Linked DNA regions of Homo sapiens: region 2 is linked to region 1. A link means that fine-mapping ties the variant in region 1 to the expression of a gene that starts in the linked region. Tissue or cell type: Th1/17 cells. Region 1 holds a variant in brackets; the other region holds the start of a gene. All regions are shown on one strand. Distances are between the middles of the regions.

What was found. PIP is the estimated chance that this variant, and not a neighbour inherited with it, causes the effect.
Region 2: POLR1A starts here. The variant in region 1 is fine-mapped to the expression of POLR1A in Th1/17 cells (Schmiedel 2018, PIP 0.95).

What each region holds. Positions count from the first base shown.
Region 1 is chr2:86,222,728-86,230,991 of GRCh38, forward strand. It overlaps REEP1 (receptor accessory protein 1), which reads right to left. Exons shown (of 9, transcript NM_001371279.1): 7 at 4,636-4,671. Among named protein-coding and RNA genes, the nearest start is that of MRPL35, 27 kb to the left of the region's middle. RefSeq lists an enhancer at 7,985-8,264. The variant C/T (reference allele first, on the strand shown) is at 5,064.
Region 2 is chr2:86,101,059-86,109,058 of GRCh38, forward strand. It overlaps POLR1A (RNA polymerase I subunit A), which reads right to left and starts at 4,828. Exons shown (of 34, transcript NM_015425.6): 1 at 4,642-4,828. The coding sequence starts at 4,718. PTCD3 (pentatricopeptide repeat domain 3) reads left to right here and starts at 5,177. Exons shown (of 24, transcript NM_017952.6): 1 at 5,177-5,293; 2 at 7,292-7,344; 3 at 7,442-7,478. The coding sequence starts at 5,190. LOC124907852 (a long non-coding RNA gene) reads left to right here. Exons shown (of 2, transcript XR_007087121.1): 2 at 147-263. RefSeq lists enhancers at 4,348-4,437, 4,638-4,847, 5,228-5,487.

The DNA of each region.
Region 1 (8,264 bases):
TACTTTGATTTGCTACTTTAGATATATTTCCACAAGTAGACCTAACTCCTTTTTATATCAGGAAGGAGTATAAATGGAGAAATGAACCCCACAGAACATAGTCCCAAAAGAGGGGCACCAGGAGGAGCAGGAGAGTGAGTAGCTGGGTAGAAAATCCCATGCTCTGCCTCCTCCATGTTCTTGTCCCTGAAGATCTAAAGATTGGTGACCCAACAGGTCCTTACCCCTGGCAACAGGCCTGAAAGAGTATTGCTATCCACATCTTAGTACTCTAATTGGCTCCCAGAGACAATGTGTGTGGGAGGAGGGTCTCCCGCCCAAGGTCATGGCCATAACAACTTGCAAACCTCAGGTGATGGTGGCCACGGCCTTGAGCCTGCAGAGCTGCCACTATGATGCCCAAAGCTGGGTTGCTTCTAGGAAAGGGCAGGGTTTCTGCCGTCTTCCACAGCAGGGGAATGGGTGTGTGGCCTTGGCTGATGTTTCTGTATTAGCAAATGTGTCAGCAGGGCTACAGCAGCCAGGGCTGCAGGCTCCACCTCTTCTCTCTGTGGGGAAGGGAGGGAGGGAGAAACTGGCAGAGCCTCTCAGCCCTTTAAAGGCCTGTGTAGCCTGCAGTGGGCCCAGGGCTGCCGCACCCCTGCAGTGCAGCAGAACCTCCCCCAGGTTAGCAAAAACATCCCACACAGCACACATTAGCGGGAGCATTAATGGAAGGCAGCAAATGTCTGCAGAAGAGCACGCCTGTCTGGAACACTTACATCCACGTCCCCAACAGCACCGAGGAGAGAGAAAAGAACATTCCGTTAGAGAAGGGTCTTTGGCACTAAAACTCACACGTGTGCACCATGCACACATCCCCATCCACACACACTCACACACAGACACACTCACATACACACATGTAGACACACACATGCTCACTCACTTCCCATGCTCTAAACCTCAGGCAGCTCCTCCTGCTATAATCAGAAGGACACTGCCCAGAGGCCACACTCAAAATGCAATTCTCTCTCTCTCTCTCTCTCTCTCTCTGAGAGGACAAAAAGGATGACTGCTTTTAAAAATTATGTCCTACATGCTTGATTTTAAAAGGGGGGGAGGGACACCTCTATGACTAACCACACAGGCAGTAATCCAGAGTTCAGTTCTATATGACATAGAGGTAGGCAGAGAAAAAAAAAAAGAGAGAGAGAGATAATAATAGACACACAGAAAAAGAGAGACAAAGACATGCAGAAAACAATAGGGAATCAGTTGACAAATGGGGCAGGAACAGAGCAAAGATGGGAAAAGAATGTTCTGGCATCTGAGATGTGCAGCTTAGAATAGAGGCTGCTGCCCCTGGGGCCTCTAAGCTCTGTCACTGCCCTAAAAGGCACTTAGCAGCCTCCGAAATGCCTCCTTTCCCTACCCCCATCATGAATTAAGACCTGAATTTACAACTCCTAGAAAATGTTCCTGTCTGCTGAGGGATCCTGGGGCTCTGCATGGCCCCAGAGGTAATTTGAATCTTCCCAGGCTTTGGCCTGAGTGAGCACCCCTTGTGACAACATTTCAGGGGACCAGGAGGAAAGTGTCCCCGACAACTGTGAAATCCTCTTACTGCTTAAGAGTCAGCCTATAGCCCCAGGTGCAAGACAGACCTCCCCCAACACCATCTGCCACCACTGCACAATCCAGTAGAGACTGTCAGAGCTGGGAGGACCAAGGGACACCTCATGGAGGGGGAGACTGAGGCCTGCAGAGTGCAGGGGCTTTCCCAAGGCCTCAGAGGGAATGGTGTAGGCCAATCATCAAAGGGTTCCTTGCATGCAGACCTGAGAGCCAGGGCACAGGTATTAAGAGGCCCTTGGAGAGGCGGAGGTCCAAGAAAGGAAGGGCTAGGACAACGGCTTCCAGGTCTTGAGGCCACCACCAGGCCTCACCTGCTTCCCGCTGTCCAGCAACCCCCATCCCAGCAGCAACCAACCTGCTCGGGGATAAGGAACCAGAACTTGGACACTGAATCCTGGACACACTCTTATGCACATGCAGCCTTCCAGAACTATTCAGTTCCTACAATCAACCACAGCTCTATTGAAATGCACTGGAAACACTGTGTCTGATCATGAAACCACCAGATGTCATGGCAGGGAAGGGCTTCTGAGAGCAGCACAGAGCAGTGTCAGGGGAAGAATGGAGGACAGGGCAGCCACTCTCCCCGACCCCCAAGTGCCAATCTCCCAGAATTAGAGGCTTTTGGAATGGCTCACAGAATTTGCAGACTCAAAACTACAGTGTGAATAGACAGAAATCCCTGCAATTGCCTGGAGCCACTGGCACCACAGGGTCATTTCCCATGAACTAGTGTGTCCACCAGGCCAGCGTCTAGTGCCCGGTGCTGGAAACAGCTGAACGCAGCCCCTTCATTTCCAACTTGGACCAGGAGGCCCCACAGGGACACAGGGTTAGTCAGAGCTGGGCTGGGACGCTTCTCTCCATCTGCAGCCCTGCTCAGACTCCTCTGTCAGTTCAGTTTGGCCTTATGGCCTCCAGAATCCCCAGCTTTTTTGTTTTTTTAGATGGAGTTTCACTCTTGTTGCCCAGGCTGGAGTGCAATGGCATGATATCGGCTCACCGCAACCTCTGCCTCCCGGATTCAAGCGATTGTCCTGCCTCAGCCTCTCGAGTAGCTGGGATTACAGGCATGTGCCACCTCACCCGGCTAATTTTATATTTTTAGTAGAGATGGGGTTTCTCCATGTTCGTCAGGCTGGTCTCGAACTCCCGACCTCAAGTGATCTGCCTGCCTCGGTCTCCCAAAGTGCTGGGATTACAGGTGTGAGCCACTGCGCCTGTCCTAATCCCCAGCTCTTCTATAAAGGACTTAAAAAGCTGAGCACTGAGAGCCTTAAAAATAAAGCAATGCAGGGAAAACAGGACACGTCACATAATGCAGTTTCCTGTCTTGCTCACTGCCGATGTGGGAGGGGCATGTCATGCCTCCGCGGCACCAGGGCTGGAGCAAAAGCTATATTAGGCACCTTGCGTGCCTTCCTTCCTCCCCTGACACCAGCCAGCAGGCTGCAGGCCAGGCACGGCCCCTCTTGCCTTCCAAGCCTAAGGCAGCTTCTCTATGGGGAGCCAGGCAGTGTGAAAGGGGCACTGGATTAGTCCAGGACCCTCACTAGTCCCTAATGTGTCTACTTAAGGTTAGGCAACTGGAGAAGCAGGTCATGGCAACCACCAGGTGGCTGTGGCTCCAACAAGCCATCACTCACACGCTGGGAGGGCAGCAACAGGAGTCTCTGTCCAGAACCGGGAGACCTCCACTCTCCCTGGGGTCTCCTGGATGCTCCAGGCTATCACCACCACCACCACCACCACCACCACCACCACCACCACCATCATCACCACCACCACCACCACCATCATCATCATCATCATCCTCATCATCCTTCCCAGGATTATTATGGCCCTTTCACAGCCACTTTCACAACAGCACAGTGAGGCCGGGAAGCAGGGATCTCATCTCCGTTTTAAGAGGAGGAACTGAAGCTCACAGCGGTTAGGTGATTCACGCAAAGTTGCACAGCAAGTAAGTGGCAAAGCAGGAACAGGGCTCCCTTGGCTGCCCCAGGACCAGAAACCCCTGGAACTTCAGGACTTCATCATTTCAGAGGACCTTAGTCCTCTGAAGTTCCTGTGTCCTTACCTGGAGCACAAGGAAGTATGACCCTGTTGTGGCTTTTTCTTTTCTTTTTTTTTTTTTTTTTTTGAGACAGGGTCTTGCTCTGTCACCCAGCTTGAGTGCAATGGCACGATCATGGCTCACTGCAACCTTGATTTCCCAGGCTCAAGCAATTCTCCTGCCTCAGCCTCTCAAGTAGTTGGGACTACAGGTGCACACCAGCACACCTGGCTTTTTTTTTTTTTTAATTGTAGAGATTAATTCTTGCTATATTGCCCAGGTTGGTCTCGAACTCCTGGGCTCAAGAAATCCTCCCACTTCTGCCTCCCAAAGTTCTGGGATTACAGGCATGAGCCACCCCGCCCAGTGACCCTGTGGTGGTTTTAAGATATCTCCACACATTCTTTGATACTCCTCCCTTCAAGAGGTGGAGATTAATTCTCCTCCCCTTGAATGTGGGCTGTGCTTAATGACTTGCTTCCAACAAATAGAATAAGGCAGAAGTGATGAGTGTGACTTCAAAACCTAGGACAGAAAAGGTACCCTGGCTTCCTGCCTGCCCTCTATCTCTTGAATGGCTCACTCTAGGCCAGGCCACCTGCCACGTTGTAAGGACTCTTAAGCAGCCTTGGAGAGGCCCAGCCAACAGCCATAAGAGTGCCATCTTGAAAGTGGACCCTCCAGTTTCGTCAAGCCCTCCGATAACTCAGCCCAGGCTGACATCTTGACTGCAGCCTCTTGAGAGACCCTGAGCTAGAACCACCCAGTTAAGCTGCTCCCAGATTTCTAGCCCACAGGAACTGTAAGCTACTGTGTTTGCTGTTATAAAGGGTTAACCTCCTGACCCCTCCCTATGACCATGCAGCTGAAAGGGAGCCCCAGGGTCAGGTGCCCACTCCTGGTTAGAAGCTCTTTCCGAGTGAGAGTCCAGCACGCTGCGGAGAGGCTGGCTGCTTACTCACCTTTCCAGGTCCTGCAGGTGGAGCAGCAGGTACACACTGTGGGAATGGGGTAGGGGCACCATCAGTGACATCCCCCACTGGACAGGAACCAGCCCCGGGCAAACAGGGAGGCCCTGGAGAGGTGTGGGGATCCCAGTGTGTACAATATAGGGATCCCAGGAAGGTGGGTCTCTGTAGAGACACCAAAGTGGGGAAAGAGTCATCTCAGATTCAGTTTCTGCTCAGGTGCAGAAGATACCCTCACCTGGCACACAAAGTCAGTCCTTGCACCCTGCAGCCCTAGGGAAGGCCGGAGACAGAGTCAAAGTTCCCTCTGGAAAATAACTCCAAGCACCCCTGCCCAAAGCCTCCTCCTCTCTTTGCTTTCCAGTTCAGAATGTCCTCCAGGAAACCTCCCCAGACTTACCTCTGAACCCCAAAGTGCTTCG[C/T]ATCTGGGCATTTGCAAAGGCCTAACTGGCTGCTGCCTTGTACACGCCATTGGTCTTGGTGCACATCTGGGCCTTGGCAATAGAGTAGGTGCTCACTAAATACATGCTCACTGAGTGACTCCAAGTCCATGGAAGGCCAGGATCATTCTTTCAACATTTCTTGTACACTTCCTGGTGTCCAGTGCTAGGCATTCAGCATATGGTATCTGACTACACACCTTCCAGCTCATTCTGCAGGGAGGGCCATGTCAGTCCCTGCCTGCCCTGACCCTTTAAGCAAAGAGGAAAACTCCAGGCAAGAGAGAGGGTCAGGCCAAGTACACTGCCCAGCCCCATCCTGGGTGCTGAAAGCAACAGGAAAGAACTCTCCTTCCCCTTCTCCAACGCCTAGACCCTGTGTCCTCACTGCACATACAGAGGTCTCTGTGTGCCAGGCATGTGGTGAGTATGTTGGGTAGGCATTTACAGAGGGAAGCACAGAACCCTTGTCTGCCTGCCAGGAGCTTGCAGCGCTGAGTGACCGTGCAGGGACAGTCTTTGTGCCCCTTCCTCCCTTCCTCGTTTGTGTGCATCTTCCTCCCTTTTCTCAAGATGCAGGAGGTCACATGGATGTCCCTTCTTGGCTCACAGCAAATGGTCCACACTGGTTCATGGGATCCCCTTCACTTTTTTTTTTTTTTTTAATGAGACAGAGTTTCACTCTTGTTGCCCAGGCTGGAGTGCAATGGCATGATCTCAGCTCACCGCAACCTCTGCCTCCCGGGTTCAAGCAATTCTCCAGCCTCAGCCTCCCGAGTAGCTGGGATTACAGGCACCCGCCTTCACGCCCAGCTAATTTTGTATTTTTAGTAGAGACAGGGTTTCTCTGTGTTGGTCAGGCTGGTCTCAAACTCTCTACCTCAGGTGATCCACCCGCCTTGGCCTCCCAAAGTGCTGGGATTACAGGCGTGAGTCACCGCGCCTGGCAACCCTTTTTATGTGCCTTTACATGACTTTTATTCCCACACCCCACTCACATTCTCCTTCCTCCTCAAGGAGTGTCACTTTTAATATTTTAATGTGCAACTTTTTGTTTGAACATGTTCTTCATATAAACTCCGTATTGTTACTTTGCATGATAGGCATATATTTTTTACATAAATTGTTAGATAAAATCTCATTCTGTTTTGCACTTTTCTTCACCTGGCATCATGCTTTCAAGTTCCACTGTGTGCACCCTTAATCTGTTGCTTCCAGCAGCTGCAGAGAATTCCACGAGGTGCAGCTCCCACCTCTCTCCAGGTTGTCTTCAACCCCTGCCACCTGTCCAGGGTTTGCAAATTCTCTGGTTTGCTCTCCTCACAACCCTAAGACATAGGCTGAATAGGGACTATTCGGTCTTTTTTACAAAGAAGAAAGCCTGAGGGAATCAGGTCTGTCCTCTGTGCCAAGGCCAAATCTATGGTAGCGACTGCCTGGGTTGTTCTGAGAGAAGTTCTGAGGCTGAATTGAGGCTCAGGAGGAAGGAGCATGCCTTGCTGTGCTGCATTTGCTGTGTCTGCACAGGCCCGGCATCACCCAGCCAGGATGAAGTCTAGCCTCTTCCCCTTTTCTGGGGCCCTTTCTGCTACCTGATCTGGCCTGGCATCTGAGGCCCACACTGGGGGCTGAGCTGGGGAGAGTACACCAGCCCGGTATAAATTGGCTTCCTCTGCCAGACTTCCTCCTAGGCATGTTGACCTTACTTCAGGGTATGATAGCCCAAGAGCCTCTGACCCAGGAAATTCTGCCCCATATCCACGCCCCAGGCCATCTTTCACCTGTCTTCCTTTTTTTTTTTTTTTTTTTTTTTTTTTAAAGATGGAGTTTCACTCTTGTTGCCCAGACTGGAGTGCAATGGTGCAATCTCATCTCACTGCAACCTCCGCCTCCCCGATTCAAGCGATTCTCCTGCCTCAGCTACTCCATGAGTAGCTGGGATTACAGGCATGCACCACCACGCCTGGCTAATTTTGTGTTTTTAGTAGAGACGGGGTTTCTCCATGTTGGTCAGGCTGGTCTTGAACTCCCGACCTCTGGTGATCCACCCTCCTCAGCCTCCCAAAGTGCTGGGATTACAGGCGTGAACCACTACACCCAGCTCCTGTCTTCCTTTTTGAGATGGCTTTTATTTTAGGCTCCAGAACAGCTGGAAAGAGCACTACACTGTCCTTGGCCTCCCTGCTGGGTTGCACCTTTCCTCTTTGCCCCCTGTGGTCATAGGTGCGGAGGCCAAGGGGGCCAGCAGTGAGGAGGGCTGGGGCATAATGCAGCACAGCTGGTCCTCTCAGCCTGGGACAGCCAGAACACTCCCCACTGCCTCCCTGGGGCATGGCAGGGGACGTCATCACCTCTGCTCATGGAGAGTGGCAGAGCCAGTGCCAAAGCAAATCATCCCAAATGCTTTTCTACCTGATGCTGGGCTGGGAAGATACTCCAGGCCCAGAAGACACTGCCATCTCCCTGCAGACCCTGCCAGCTTCTTGCATTCCCAGTTCTGAGGCTGCCCTGAATAATTCACCAGGGGAGGTCTAGGCAGGAGGCCTGGATTCTGGGCCTGGGGGCCTCAGCCCAGTGCACAACCTCTCTGAGCCTGCTTCCTCCACTGGGCTCACCTCTAAAATGGCAACACAGACTCTTAGAGGCAAAGGGACGCCAGGGCCACCTAAGCCCGCTTCCTAGCCAAAGCAGGAATCCCTCCCTCGAACCTGACCATCCAGCTTTGGCTTGTGTCCTTCCAATGTCAGGGACCTCACTACCTCCCAAGATGGCCCATTTTGCTCCTGGACACTTGCAGCATGACAATGCGCCTTCTCAGGAGAGACAAATTACAAAAAGAACAATGATAACAGCTACTATGCACTGGCGCCAGGCATGGCCATAAGCACTTTCACATGGCTGGTTTCATTTGAAGCCTCACAACAACTCTACAAAGGGGTGTCATTCCTTGTGTAGATAAGAAATCTAGGGTGCAGAGATGGTAAATAGCTCGCCCGGGTCATGCGGCGAGCAAGTGGCTACCCCCTTCGAACTTCACCCCACTGGTTCTTGCTCTCTGCCCTCTGGGTTTTACTGAATTGAGGCCCCTTTTCCATCTAAGGGGCAGCTTTCATCTGAGGCTTGGTAGATGATGAGCTGATGCAGTGTGGAGATGAGACTTAACTCTGTTTTGTATCCCTATTT
Region 2 (8,000 bases), 120 kb before region 1:
TAAATTTGACAACATTAAACACATTTAGTCAAACCTTAAAAAAGGTTTCATCACATTTTATGTTTGGTTTGAAAGGTGCTCCCATAGGACACAACTATGTTTAGTAGGCTAACTTTGCTTTTACAATTTTCTCCTTTCTGATTTAGAAAATAAAGACAAAGAAACCATCCCAATCTGACAGCCTAGAGGAAATCCGAAGGCTGAAACGAGAGTCCCCTAATGATGTAAACACTCCCTTTAATAAAGCACAAAAATAGTGTCAAGTTTTCATGAGTGGTGACATGTTCTGAGTGTAAAACAATGTTAGTCTATCAGGAACTAAGCTGCTCAGCTCTAGAAGATTCTATGTTGCATGGCCAGTGTCACTCTAAGGGCCAAGGCGACAGGGAGGCAGATCTGCTGCTGTGGCTCTTGTCTATATGGTCACCTTGCTGCCAGTAAGCTAATTTCATGAGAAACTTGATCTAACTCAAAAGTTGTGCGTGTGGTCTCTTCCCACAAATCTAGAGTCCACCTGCAACCCTGAACTGGGTAACATTGAACAAATTACTTACCTTTTGTTCTTTAATCTTAATTTTTGAAACTGTAATAAAATATATATAAATTCATCATAACTGTTTCAATTAGTACAGTTCAGTGGTATTAAGTACATTTGCATTGTGCTACCATCACCACTCTCCATCTGCAGAACCCTTTTTCATCTTGTAAAATTGAAACCCTGTACCCATTATACAGTAATTCTTCATCTCCTCTGCTACCATCATTTTACTTTCTGTTTTGATTAATCTGACTACTCTAGGTACCTTATATTAAGTGGAATCACACCGTACTTGTCCTTTTGTGACTGGCTTATTTCACTTAGCACCGTGCCCTCAAGGTTCATCCATGTTATAGGATGTGTTGAACTTTTTTCCTTTTTTAGGGCTGAACAATATCCCATTGCATGTATATACCACATTTTATGTATCAACCCATCCATTGATAGACACTTGGGTAGTTTCCACTTTTTCACTATTGTGAATAATGCTGCTATGAACATAGGTATACAAATATCTCTTTGAGACCCTACTTTCAATTCCTTGGATACACATCCAGAAGTAGAATTGCTGGATCACATGGTAATTTTGTCTTTAGTTTTTTGAGAATCCACCCTACTGTTTTCCATAGTGGTTGCACCATTTTACATTCACACTAATGGTGTACAAAAAGCTTCCACTTTCTCCACACCCTTGCCAACACTTACTACTTTCTGTTTTTCTGATAGTAGCACCCTACTGGATTTGAGGAGCTTTTTATTTGCATTTCCCTAAAATTGGTGATGTTCAACATCTTTTCACATACTCACTGGCCATCTGTATGTCTTCTTTGGAAAAATGTCTGTTTAAGTCCTTTGTCCATTTTAAAATTGAATTTTGTGTTGTTGTTGAGTTGTAGGAGTTCTTTTTATGTTCTAGATATCAATCTCTCATCAGATATATAATTTACAAATATTTTCCCCCATTCCATGGGTTGCCCTTTCACTCTGCTGACTGTATCCTTTGATAACTACCTAATTTTTTTCTCACCTGAAGTCTGGGCATCACAGCAGCTCTATTGGGATGATTAGAAGATAACATACAGAAAATACAGTGTCAAACAAAGTTCCTCTCTCTTTGTAGAGGAGAAAGTCCCTCCCACCATTACAGGAGTGGGATGAAGAGTAGGGGCAACTAGCAAGGATTCCACCAGTCAGTAGAGTTTGAGATCAATAGACTTAGGTTTGAAGATGACCTTTGCCACTTCCTAGAGAGACATTTTGTTCTCTGGGCCTGAATTTTTTACTGGAGGTGCCACCACAAATGGTGTTGTTAAGAACTGAGAATGGGTGTCGTTAAGGACTGAAAGTGCCAAGCACTGAGCAGCTAGCTCCTCTATCCATCTATTCATACACTCAACAAATACCCAGAGTGCTCACTGTGTGCCAGACAGTGTTAAGTGCTAAGGAAACAGACAAGAACTGCTATGCTTACAGGCCTTACATTCTATTGGAGGAACGGGAACAGACACAAAATGTATAGTCTGTTAGACGGCAGAAAGGGCTATGACGAAAAATAATGCAGGGAAAGGGAAGAGCAGAGTAGGCAAGTGGTCCTAGAAGCCCACTAAGGAGGAACTTGGGCAAAGGCTGAAGGAGTTGAGGGAGCAGGCCATACAGTCACCTGGGCAGAGGGTTTTACAGGAGGAAGAAGCAGGGAGTGCAAAGGTCCTGAGGTGGATGTGTGCCCGTGGTGCTCTGGATGCAGCAAGGAGGTCAGGGTAGCCAGAATAGAGGTGAGATCAGAGAGGTAACAGGAGACTGAAATGACCCCTCCAGGCCATTTGTAAAGACTTGGTTTTTACTCTGAGTGAGATGGGAAGCTATTAGAACCTGGCACAATAAAAGGTGGCAGTATTATTGAAATGTCTCAACTCTAAACTTGTTTGAAAACTCCACAATTATCTTTTTAAAAATTCAGGCAACTTAAAACACTTCTGCTTTTGGATGAAATCGTATCCACTTATGGCAGTGATGATATAATTGGAATTTCTGGGCTAGCACACTGTTACCAATGATACCAGAGCTGTGGCTCAGGAGTTTATTCATCCATTTATTCAGACTTGAGGATAAAAGACAAGAGTGACACATATAAGAAGCTCAAGGATAGTGGAGGAAGACAAATATACATAAGCACAAAAAGTCACTAAAGCACCATGACAGACAACTGTATCATGTGCAAAATGACCTCACAAAACAAGGGAGGTGAACTGAGCTTTCAGGTGTGTATGTTGGGTAGGGGACAGAGGGAAGTACCTCCTTTTGGCTGAAAGGACACTGCATGCAGAGGGAATAGCTTAAAGAAAGGCCCAGATGTTGAAATATGATGGCGGTTTCTGGAATATGCAGGTGGTTTAATAGGGCTGAAGAAGGGATGATGTTATAGCTAAAATCAGCATTGGTCTGATCATGGGAGACTTTGCAGGCTATGCTAAGAAAATATACTTTATCTGAGGGAAATGGAGAACATTTGGAGGGTTTTAAGGGTGACAGTAGCATGACTACATTTGCACTTTGCAAGAATAATTTTGACAGCAGTGTGGAGCATGCACTTGAGAGGTGTAAGGGGAGGGTGGAAGGAAAAGACAATTCAAATATGAGATAAGGGCCAGAGGCAACACAGTAGCAATTGGGAGAAAAAGGAGACTAAGAACAAATAGACATGTAGGTGACACAAAGTAAGAGCCCAATAAATAAGTTATATGTCAGGAGAGATCTAGAATAATTTTCCAGTTTCTAGTGACTATTTTGCACTACGTACACCATTTTGGAGGGGTAAGTAACCCCTCCCTTTGAAGAGGGATGCCGTGTTGAGTTTTTTTTTTTTTTTTTTTGAGACAGAGTATTGCTCTGTCGCCAGGCTGGAGTGCAGTGGCACAATCTCGGCTCACTGCAACCTCCGCCTCCTGGGTTCAAGCGATTCTCCTGCCTCAGCCTCCCGAGTAACTGGGACTACAGGTGCCCGCCACCACGCCCAGCTAATTTTTGTATTTTTAGTAGAGACGGGGTTTCACCATGTTGGCCAGGGATGGTCTCGATCTCCCGACCTCGTGATCCGCCGGCCTCGGCCTCCCAAAGTGCTGGGATTACAGGCGTGAGCCACCGTGCCCGGCCATGTTGAGTTTCTGATATGCATTTAGGCCATGTTGAGTTTTTGATATGCATTTAAGATCTCTGTGTGAAATTCAATTAAAGATGTACAGACAGCTGAACAAATGGGTCTGAAAATCAGGGAAATAAATTTGCGTTGGGGATTTAAATTTGAGACTATAAATCATGAAAGTGGTGAGATTGTCTAGGGACAATATTTACCATGAAGAAAACATTACTAGAATAGAATCTTGAAGAACATCAACATTTAAGGAGTAAAATGAGGTACAGACCTTGCTCACCAATGTGTCATTAACGCCTAGCTTGGTGCCTGGAAAAAACTGGATGCTCAATAAATGTTTGTGAGGTTATAGATCGATAGAGGAAGAGAGGGAGGTAGAAGTATTTGTCATAAAAATAGGAGAACTTGAAGACAAATAAGGTTCTGGAAGAAAGGAAAGTTTCAAGAGAGTGCATTGGAGAATGTCAAATGCTACCTTGATCAAAATGAAGACTAAAGAGAGTTCCCTTGATTTAACAACCAGACCGAGAATATAGCAGGGTCCTAGCAAAGAGAAGTTAACGCCTGAACTGACACTTGAAGGACAATCATTTTACAAACAAGAGGAAACTTACTACGTGCCTAATTAACCATGTCAGGTACACTATGGTTAATTCCACAAATGCTTGTTAGTTAACGAGGAGACTGGCAGATGATAACGCTGCAGACCAGGACCCTCCCCACCCTTATATTCCCCTACCTCAGCGCAAACTCTTTCCCCCAGCACCACCGGCCTCTTATCCAGGCAGTCCACGCCGGCCCAGGAACGTTCCCAGAACTACGGCTCCCAGCAGGACAAGCGCCAGACAAGCCTGGACTCAAGAGGATAGACTGGGCAAAAGCGCTTCTGGGAATCGTAGTTTAGGGCGCCGACCTCAAGATCCAGGCTGGGCACGCTACCCGACCAACTCCTTACTTGAGCTCTTCAGCCGAATACATCCCGAAGGAAATGCCCTGCAGCCGCCGCCAGGGCATGTTCTTGGAGATCAACATCCTCCAGGTCCGTTTTGAATTCCGACACCCCAAGAGACGTTCCACTCACCACCTGACTATTCTTAATTCAACCTCAAGCCCGGAGTCACCACGCGATTCAACGTGCGCTTGCGCGCGGAAGCGGTCGCAGGAACGACATTTACGTGGATGAGATCACTTCTACATGGGGGGGGAACAAATAGTTGTACGACTCTCTGCTCGCTCTTTTGTTTTGAAAACAATCAAAGATATATAAGACATCAAAATAATCATTTAGGAAAATTCCTCCGAGGCAAATCGGGTGTATAGAGCTTTTAGCTTCCGTGACGAAGTCTTTCAAACCATGAGCTTGCAACCTCCCATTTTATGATTGCTTTCGTCTTCTTCCGCTTCAGCCAATAGCGGAGCTGTTCCCTGCTCCCCGCCCACTGCGCCCCACCTTCCTGAAGGTCGAGGCACGCTTTCCCAACATGCTCTGCAGAGAAATCAAAGATGGCGGTTGTATCTGCTGTTCGCTGGCTGGGCCTCCGCAGCAGGCTTGGCCAGCCGCTGACGGGTCGGCGGGCGGGTTTGTGTGAACAGGCACGCAGCTGCAGGTAAGAGACGCTTAGGGTATCCGCGAAGAAGACCGCGGAGTCACCTTAGTCCTATGTTTCCCAGCTGGCTGTGGAAGTAGGCACGATGAAATGGTTTGCTCATGCGCGCCCTTAACGGTCGCGTGCCCTTAAGACCAGGTACGCGGAGGTGGCCCTTTGAAATAGGATTCGCAACGCATTTATTCATTAGAGAAATACTTATTGGTTGCTTGCAATATTCTGTAGTTAACACCATCCGCAAAGCTAGGACCCTGCTCTCATGAAGCTTGCGTTCCAGTGAGTGTGGCTATTAGCAACACTACCCCAAATTAAAAATTATCCGCCATTACTCATTTTAACCCAATCAGGAGGAGCGAGGAGAACGTACAAGATCTTCCCAAATAAAAGGCAGTCTCTGGTCGCCACCGTGGGGACTTTGGCTAAAGAAGTTATCAGGTTTTCGTAAAAGCAGAAAAGTCTAAAAGATCTGACTATGCCCTTTTGATCTGTGATAGTTATAGCTTGGAACATGTATGACCTATCTGTGTAATTTTTTTTTCACTCAGTACAAACAGTGGCATTGTGGGAATATGAGAGGCAGTAATTTGTAGTGAAAACTTGCTAAAAGCCTAATTTTAGGTTTAGTGTTTGCCATTCACTTAATTGGATGATAATAGACAGATTTCCTCATCTGCAGACTAGAGTTGGTAATAACCATCCGAAAAGTTTGTGAGGTATAAGTGGGGTATGTAATTTACAATATGTTTTTATATGTACTCTCCCTTAGTTCCCCTCAAGAAAGAGAAACCACTCCATCTGATACTGCAGAAACCTTTGTGCTGCCATTCAATGCCAGTCCTCCGTTTCCTGGTAGCCATCGTTAGCATTTTTCTACTCATTTTCTTTGCCTGAAGCAGAATCTCTTCCTCAGCATCCGTTCTCAAAATAACTGTGATCTCTGTTTTAAGGTCATGAGAAACAAATAGTGTGACTTGAAAGAGTTGATCTCAGAAACTTGAAAGAGTTGATCTCTTTCTGAAATGTCCTTAACGTAGAGGGGTATTCTTGTTTTAAATGATACCTGAAACCAGATACTACTGGAGGAAGTATCTGTCTGTGCAATCACATCTTGACAATTTTCTGAATGTTACTGATGCCATTTAGTAAGGGGAAACACAAGATAATACTAACCGTCACATTATCTGTGGTGTGTTGACTGTGTTTTTAGTGTGATCAGAACACTTAAACAGAACACTTAAAAACTCAGTCATGGGCCAATGATTCTATATTTTGGTTTAAAAAGGATTTCATATTGAACCTCTGAAAATAGAAAATATCAGCAATTCCAAGTCTAAATCAGGCCTTATGTATTTGGTACATTCTTGATTGTTGAAAGAAGTGGAATGAGAAGCCATGGGTCATCTTCCCTATGTTGTAATTGCTTTAAGTGAGGTAGTCCTTTCTGATCAGGGCAGTATCTGTATAGAAGCAAGAGCTCACTGAATTGTTCTTTTAAACATCATAGTGTTTTGGGTTCCTGAAGTTGAAAGTTCTTCATTTCAAACCAGATTGTTCAAGTGCTATTAAAAACTTTCCTCCCTCTCTGCCATTTATGTAATGAGATTGCTTGCTTCCAAAACTTTTGTCTAGCCGGGCATGGTGGCATATGCCTGTAGTCCTAGTTACTCAGGAGGCTGAAGCAGGAGGGTCACTTGAGCCCAGGAGTTCAAGGGTTCAGTGAGCTATAATTGCACTACTTCACTAAAGGCTAGGCAATGGAGCAAGACCCTGTCTCTAAAAAAAAAAAAAAAAAAGTTTTGACAGTCTTGTCCATATCTTGTATCCATTCCTTAATGATATTGAACATGTGTACAGACTGTCTTCTCAGCGTTCATTGACATGAGTTATCCAGTTTAATCCGTGATAATTGGAGAATTTGGGCTCAAAGTACACATAGGTGGAGGTGAGCTGGGTACTTCATTAATGACTATTAGATTTAAGGCTTTTGTTTTTTTGCAGATTTTATTCTGGTAGTGCAACCCTCTCAAAGGTTGAAGGAACTGATGTAACAGGTATATTTTAAAATATATTGAATTCTATTTTTATATCAACACGTTGGATTCCATTGTAGTACTAGGAAACTGATTCATGTTTTCTTTTTTACATTAGGGATTGAAGAAGTAGTAATTCCAAAAAAGAAAACTTGGTAAGTATTCTATCAGTGTTCATTCAGCAAATGGTTGAGTGCTTACTATGAGAGAAGTGTAAGGGTTAGGTAAGGAGACAGTGACAGGAAGAGCAATAGGAGAGCATTCTTGAAGAGAGTAGCTGAGCGGGGAGAAGCTAGGAGTTTAAAGGACAAAAAATGGAAAGGTGGAGAATAGTGAGTGAATGAGCAATGAGATTTACTTAAAAGAACAATTGAAAGAGATTTTGAATTAGTGTGGGTTACTATTTACGTGGTTAATAATACATGGTTATACATGAACATCATCATTAGAATAATTTTTTTCAAGGAAGTTCTCTCATATGATTCAAGAGCAGACAGTTACTGTCTTTATTATCTCTAATGAGGTAAAAATAAAGTAAATGGTGTGGACAGCAAAATTTAGCTTTTTTATTCACTGGATATATCCTTGAACAAATTGCCTCATCTCATTTATTCAACATTTGTTGAATATGCAGGAATTAAAACTTCACAAAAGTGCTTGTTACAGTGTAGTCCTAT